Linked DNA regions of Homo sapiens. The protein of the gene in region 2 purifies or fractionates together with the protein of the main gene of each other region. This does not show direct contact. Each region holds a gene or a part of one and is shown on either strand. Other genes may lie near its edges.

The links.
Region 1: the proteins of SCG3 (region 2) and IRGQ purify together in Homo sapiens (affinity purification with mass spectrometry; 2 studies listed by BioGRID and IntAct, with this or other methods). This does not show direct contact.

The regions. Positions count from the first base shown.
Region 1 is NC_000019.10:43,585,864-43,589,687, forward strand, and holds part of IRGQ (immunity-related GTPase family Q protein), read right to left. Parts: 3' UTR 1-3,824. UniProt on the Homo sapiens protein: Autophagy receptor that specifically promotes clearance of misfolded MHC class I molecules by targeting them to the lysosome for degradation.
Region 2 is NC_000015.10:51,691,295-51,695,118, forward strand, and holds part of SCG3 (secretogranin-3 isoform 1 precursor), read left to right. Parts: intron 1-864; coding exon 865-1,042; intron 1,043-3,824. UniProt on the Homo sapiens protein: Member of the granin protein family that regulates the biogenesis of secretory granules. Acts as a sorting receptor for intragranular proteins including chromogranin A/CHGA. May also play a role in angiogenesis.

The DNA.
Region 1 (3,824 bases), on a different chromosome or scaffold from region 2:
CTAGGTTTCCAGCCCAGTCAAAATCTCAAGGATCTTTCTTTTCCCTCAAACTCCAAAAGAACAGACACGCAATAGGATTTCTATTCATTTTTATTCATTCCTCCAAAGAGCACCACAGGCCAACCACACCCTTGATGTGTCCTTCATGGTTCCCCACTGCAGTGGACACAAATCCCTCCATCATTATCCAGGCATGGATGGAACTCTGCTGTGGTGAGGAGGTTGTCTCGCCCACTCACCCAAGTTTTCCATGCCTGTTCTGCTTTTGATGGCAATGCCAAAATTCATCATACATTTCCTTGAATTCCTGCCTTCAAGGGTCTTCCAGCCCTGTGGTGCCATGCAGACACACTTCAGTGGCGGCCAGTGATCTGTCTACAAGGGAGTCTTAGTCTTTTCTGCTTGGATGCTCCCAGGGACAGATGCCTGCCAACAACCTTATGTCTTCACAAAGACTAAAATGGAATCCCATTAAAAGTTATGATTTAAAAGGCGACCACCCCCAAAAGAAGTCATAACACTCAAGGGTGTCAATATATACAACTGTGTAAACACAACCAATCTACAACTATATCAACACAACCAGCACTCCTCTATGGGCACAGACACACACACAAAATTGTCTTGCTTTCTCAGATATGATCTCTGGCATGACTCCTGCTGGCATGAGGGCAGAGGAAATTGAGAGGAGCAAAGCATATAGCAGTGATGTCAGACAGGACCAAATCAGAGACAGGGTCAAAGTGGCAGAAAAATGAGGAGCACACTCCGAGCAAAGGCATGGGGGTGAGACAAAGGCACCCAGACTAGAGCCATCTTGGTGCTGCCCAGGGGTGGGTGGCACTCATGTTTGAGCTCCATGTGTCAGGCTTTTCAGGAAAGGGTGTACTATGTTATGTGTCTGTGTGCATATTGTGTGCCTGCATGTACATACATACGCTGAATTCTCACCATAACCATGTGAGGTAGATGCCATTTGTAGAGTGACTTGCCCAAGTCAGTGGAAGGACTATCTGCCCCTAGAGCTAGACTGATAGAATTTTCTATGTTGATGGAAGTATTCTGTACCTTCCCTGTCCAATACCATAGCCACTAATCACATGTGGCTACTCAGTATTAATGTTGCACTACTGCCAATGAAACATAGAATTTTAAGTTGTATTTACTTTTAATTGAACAGCTGAGGCCAGGTGTGGTGGCCCATGCCTGTAATACCAGCACTTTGGGAGGCCGAGGTGGGCGGATCACCTGAGGTCAGCAGTTCAAGACCAGCATGCCCAACATGGTGAAACCCCGTCTCTGAGAAAAATACCAAAATTAGCCAGGCATGGTGGCATACACCTGTAGTCCCAGCTACTCAGGAGGATGATGCAAGAGAATCAGTTGAACCTGGGAGGCAGAGGTTGCAGTGAGCTGAGGTCATGCCACTGCACTCCAGCCTGGGTGACAAAGTGAGACTCTGTCTCAAAACAAAACAAAACAACCCAGCAACTTGGTCAACATAACCAGACCTGCATCTTTACTTAAAAAAAAAATGGACACCCATCTCAGTTTTTGGAAAACTATTATATAATTGGAACAACTTGGATATGTGAATCTACTTCTCCAACTATGAATTTTATGAAATCAAAATAAAGGTCAAGCATTTCAGATAAAAATGTACCATGGTAATTGAGATTTGGTGTAAGTGTAAAATATATAACAGATTTTGAAGACAGCACAAAAGAACGTAACATAATTCATTTAAATAATACCGATGACGCCAGGCACGGTGCCTCACGCCTGTAATCCTAGCACTTTGGGAGGCCGAGGTGGGTGGATCACCTGAGGTCAGGAGTTTGAGACTAGCCTGGCCAACATGGCGAAACCCCATCTCTAACCAAAAATACAAAAATTAGTGGGCATGGTGGCGGGTGCCTGTAATCCCAGCTACTCGGGAGGCTGAGGCAGGAGAATCACTTGAACCTGGAAGGTGGAGGTTGCAGTGAGCCGAGATTGTGCCACTGCACTCCAGCCTGGGCAACAAAGCGAAGCACTATCTCAAAAAAAAAAAAAACTAAAAAACCGATGACATGTTGAAATGCTATTTTGGATACATTGGGTTAAGTAAAACATGTTAAAATGAATTTAACCTGTTTCCTTTTACTTGTCTAATGTGGCTATTAGAAAACTTGGCTTACTCAGCACTTTGGGAGGCTGAGGTGGGCAGATAACTTGAGGCCATGAGTTCCAGACCAGCTTAGCCAACATGGTGAAACCCCATCTCTACTAAAAATACAAAAATTAGGACGGGTGCAGTGGCTCACGCCTATAATCCCAGCACTTTGGGAGGCTGAGGCCGGTGGATCACCTGAGGTCAGGAGTTCAAGACCAGCCTGGCCAACACAGTGAAACCCCATCTCTACTAAAAATACAAAAATTAGCTGGGCATGATGGTGCATGCCTGTAATCCCAGCTACTTGGGAGGCTGAGGTTGCAGTGAGCCAAGATCGCACAACTGCACTCCAGCCTGGGTGACAGAGCAAGACTCCGTCTCCCAAAAAATAAATAAATAAATAAAATAAAAATACAAAAATTAGCTGGGCGCGGTGGCTCATGCCTGTAATCCCAGCACTTTGGGAGGCCAAGGCGGGTGGCCTGAGGTCAGTAGTTCCAGACCAGCCTGATCAACATGGTGAAACCCCATCTCTACTAAAAATACAAAAATTAGCCAGGCATGGTGGCATATGCCTGTAATCCCAGCTACTCAGGAGGCTGAGGCAGGAGAATCACATGAACCTGGGAGGCGGAGGTTGCAGTGAGGCGAGATCGTGCCACTGCACTCCAGCCTGGGTGATGGAGTGAAACTCCATCTCAAAAAAAGAAAACTTAAAATGACATATGTGGCTTGCATTTCGTTTCTACTGGACAGTGCTGCCCTGCAGCCCTCCCATTCCATCACGTGGCTGACATGCCTGATTGCAGGGCTTAGACACTAATATGATGGGGTAAAGATATGGATGAATATTCTTCCCCAAAGCTGAAAGAGCTTTCATGAAAATGCCTGGAGCCATTCAGTATAGAACTAAGTGCTCTTCCCCATGGTAGCTATCTCAACTTTGAAGGGACAAATTTTGTCAGCAGTGGGAGTCCAAGCTGGAGATGATGGTACCATCCCTTGTCTGCCCTTGGATCAGTTACCTTTGTCTTCAGCTTTTAAGGGAGACAGGATCTCAAAACTAAGGTTCTTATCCAGCTCTTTTATTTCACAGATGGGAAAATAAGGCACTGTCCAAGTAACACACAGTGACAGTGGCAAAGTCGTGCTTGCTTCCCAGGTCCCTGACCTCAGACAAGGGTGTTCTCTCCCATTAAATGCTTTTTTCTCCTCATCTTGCTCCATTTTCCTATCTTGTGGCAAGAGATTAACAATCTAAATTCCAATCCTAGTTCTGACACTGACCAATGAAATAAACATTTAGGCTGGGTGTGGTGGCTCACACCTGTAATCCCATCAAGGCAGGAGGATCACTTGAGGCCAGGAGTTCAACACTAGTGTGGGCTACAAAGCAAGACCCCCGTCTCTACAGAAAATTTGGTGCTGTGTACCTATAGTCCCAGCTACTCTGTAGGCGGAGGTGGGAGGATCGTTTGAGCCCAGGAGTTGGAGATGGCAGTGAGCCATGATCATCCCACTGTATTCCAGCCGGGGCAACAGAGCAAGACCCTGTCTCTAAAATAATAATAATAATAATAAATATTTACGAAGCACCTATTGTGTCAGGCACCTATTGTTCTAGATGCTGGGGAAACAACAGAGAACAGGACAGGCAACGGGTCAAAAG
Region 2 (3,824 bases):
CTTTATTGTAAGAACCATGAGAATTTTCTGGTCCCCTGAAGAATTTTAAGCAAAGGAGTTACATGATCAGATTGTTAAAAAGATAACTCTGGCTATAATGTGGAAACGCAGTATTGGGCATAGATTTGGGGAGGGTGATGTTGCAGTTAGCAGGTGAGAAATGAAGGCTGCTTGGACTAGAGTGGCATAGTGGAGGGAGAAATGTGCAAATTTGGGATAAATTTTGAAAGTGGGGCCAACAAGGCTACTGATGGATTGGATGGGGGAAAAGGAAGAAGAGGCAAGAAAGGCTGTTAAATTTCTATCTAGTTCACTGAATGGAGAATGAACCATTTACTAAGATGCAAGTCACTGAACAAAAACCAGGTCTGAGAGAAAGATTTTGTACACTCATCCAGACAGCACTTAAACTTTACCCAAAAATTCCCAGGTGTGACTGCTCTGCTAGGGATAGACATTCTAACAGGCTTTCCTGTATCCTGGCACCAGCCCTCCTGGTGGATTCTGTGAACTCAAAGCTTCCCTCTTCATTAAAAGGCAGTTTTTCCTGGGGAGACTCATGATAATTTATGGAGGTAAACATGGCCAGAGAAAGAGCCCAGAAATTCCCGTTTTTCCCCTGAGCAGGAGCTGGGGTCTTCAGGGGGTTTTCCCTGAGGTAGAGCACCTTTCCCTGAGCTTCAATGACCTTTTCAAATGACAAGAGCACACATATCTAGAAATGGGTTTGAACCTGCAGGAGCTTGCAAACGAGGGGGAATTCTTGCACTTCACATTTAAGGGCATCACAAAGGAAGGAATCAAGCTGGAGTTTCACTAGTTCTAACAAAATGTTCATTTTTTATTGATTTTTCCCCACTGGAGACTCCAATGGCAGCAATTCAAGATGGTCTTGCTAAGGGAGAAAACGATGAAACAGTATCTAACACATTAACCTTGACAAATGGCTTGGAAAGGAGAACTAAAACCTACAGTGAAGACAACTTTGAGGAACTCCAATATTTCCCAAATTTCTATGCGCTACTGAAAAGTATTGATTCAGGTAACCACTGTGTGGTTGTGATTATGTGGAACAGAAAGAGTGATTCCAGGAAATGTATGGGTGTGTTCTTTTCTTCCTGTTTTCAGTTTCCAAATGTAATCTCCAATGACATACACTGTGGGCTTGGGGAAAAGGGTTCACATCGATTTTTTTTTCCAAAGGAGCATGCCAGTTATGAAAATATTTAGGAAAGGTGATGTTTCTGGATAATTTAATCTTCTTGTTAACAGAAGGTTCATTTATTTGTTCAGCAAACAAATACTGAACGTGTGCTATGTACAAGGTGCTGGAAAAGACCTAGCACAAAGATGGATATGAACCAGGCAGTGTCCTTGCTCTGACCCAGTTCAACCTCAACTCTTATTGCAACTCTTTTTTTCTCAGCTTGATTGAGGTATAATTGGCAAACAAATATTGTATATATTTAAGGTGTACAATTTGATGTTTTGGTACATTTATACATTGTGAAATGATTATCACAATGAATCTAACTAGTGTATCTATCACCTTATAGTTAACATTTTTTTCTTTTTTTTCTTTTATTCTTTTTGTGTGTGTGATGAGAACACTTAAGACCTACCCTCTTAGCTAATTTCAAGTACACAGTACAGTATTGTTAACTATCACCACCATGCTGTACATTCTCCAGAATGTATTCATCTTGCATAACTGAAATTTCATACCCTTTGACCAACACCTCCCCATTTTTCCCTCCCCTTAGCCCTTGGCAACTACCATTCTACTCTCTTCTTCGATGAGTTTGACTATTTGAGATTCTACATATAAGTGAGATCATACAGTATTTGTCTTTCTTTGCCTGCCTTTTTTTATTAGCATACATGTTGTCATACACACACACAAAAGTAGGAAGGAAATCCTTCCATTTGTAACAAATCTTTCTTTAAAAGGCTCTACTCACTTTCCTTAATGGAAACAGTGTATGAAACCTAATTCATCCTTTTTATATTATTCAAGAGATCTTTATGAACAGTTTCAGTTTCAGCCTTTATGAACATTTTAACTTCAGAGTTAAAATGGAGAACATTAGACTGAAGGAATCTGGGAACCTCAAACACACTTGGGAAATTATTTGTTTTTGTTTTTGTTTTTTTAAAGCTAAGTATTTCATGCATCCTGATCTCTTTGCTCATATGTGCAGTGAGTTAACTGAGGATTCAGTCCATGTTTATTTTGGTTAATCTGCAAGGAGGATAATAATGTGCAATGTTTCTGTTGTTATTGTTCAAACAGATGCTCTGGACTGCCTTCATGGCTTTTTCTTTCCCTGTTCAAGGATTCAGCCCCAGATTGAACATTTATATAAAGACTTCTATAATTGTAATCTATTTCTCCCAAGAAGTGACCTTAAAATAAGCTTTCATTTCTGGAGAACATCCTTTGTGCTTCAATTCCAGACATTGGCCAGATGGCACCGGCCACTCTGCTGGCTCTGCAGGGCTTGTACATCTTGAGGGTCCATTCTGAGCCATCTTGCCCCATTGGTTGGCAGATGCCCTACTCAGAACCTCTGTCATCCTGGTGAGTCACTTCTCATCAGTGAAGAGCAGCAGCGTGATGCCAAATACTTCTACGGATGTGTCCTTGAGCAAATAATGTGATAGCTGAAGTTACTATTTATCAGTTCTTTTCCAAGACCTCTTCCCCTGACTCTTCTCCCATTTTTCCTCCCTCTCAACCCATGACTTTATGGCATTTTTAAAAATTCTACTGTATAAAATGTTCCTTACTTGTTTTTATCTTTCCATTTCCCTCACCTCATTTCTTATTGTCTTTATTTTTCCATAATTTTAATTTAAATATTTATACTGAGTTCTTTGCTAGCATCTGTCTTTCTTGCCCAGGGTCTCAACCAATTAAGAATGAATAAAGCAGGTAGGAAACCAAAATATCATCTCTGTTGCTGATAAACACAGGGCTGCAGAACATAGCTTCATGTGAGAGCCAACAGTGGCCTTGTTTGCTCCCTACTCCTCCGTCTAGATCTTGGAACAGCCAGTCTCAGGGATGATTTGGGTCTGCAGAACAGGCTCGTTTCTCAGGTTCTTGCCTTGCACTGTTCCAGGCAAGTGGAAAAAAAGAAAGATTCCAAATCCCCACCAGTTGAGAAACATAGGCTAATGGCTGTTGCTTACCAACCATATCTGCGGGGGAGGATGAAGAGGAAGGGGGAAAGGCTAGGAGTATTTAGAGAAAATCTTTCAGTGGCAGCTCAAAGAATAGGGAAAATGGGTTCCCCCTCTAGCATCTTAGTTTTTCTTTTCTTCAAAAATGGAAACAGATTTTTTTTTCTGATTTTAGAATTAATATTTTTTCTGAGCTATTATGGCATCATTATCCATTTTGTTCCATCAAGATGCAGAACAGAATGTCAAATACAAAGGGTTCCCAAGAGGCCGAGCGCGGTGGCTCACGCCTGTAATCCCCACACTTTGGGAGGCCAAGGAGGGCGGATCGCCTGAGGTCAGGAGATCGAGACCATCCTGGCCAACATGGTGAAACCCAGTCTCTACTAAAAATACAAAAATTAGCCAGGCATGGTGGCGCACGCCTATAATCCCAGCTACTCGGGAGGCTGAGGTAGGAGAATCTCCTGAACCCAGGAGGCAGAGGTTGCAGTAAGCCGAGATGGTGCCACTGCACTCCAGCCTGGGTGACAGAGTGAGACTCTATCTCAAAAAAAAAAAAAAAGAAAAAAGGTTCCCAAGAAACTGCTAGTAATCGTTACTTAAAGGGAGTTAGAGGGGATGAGGAAGAGAATATT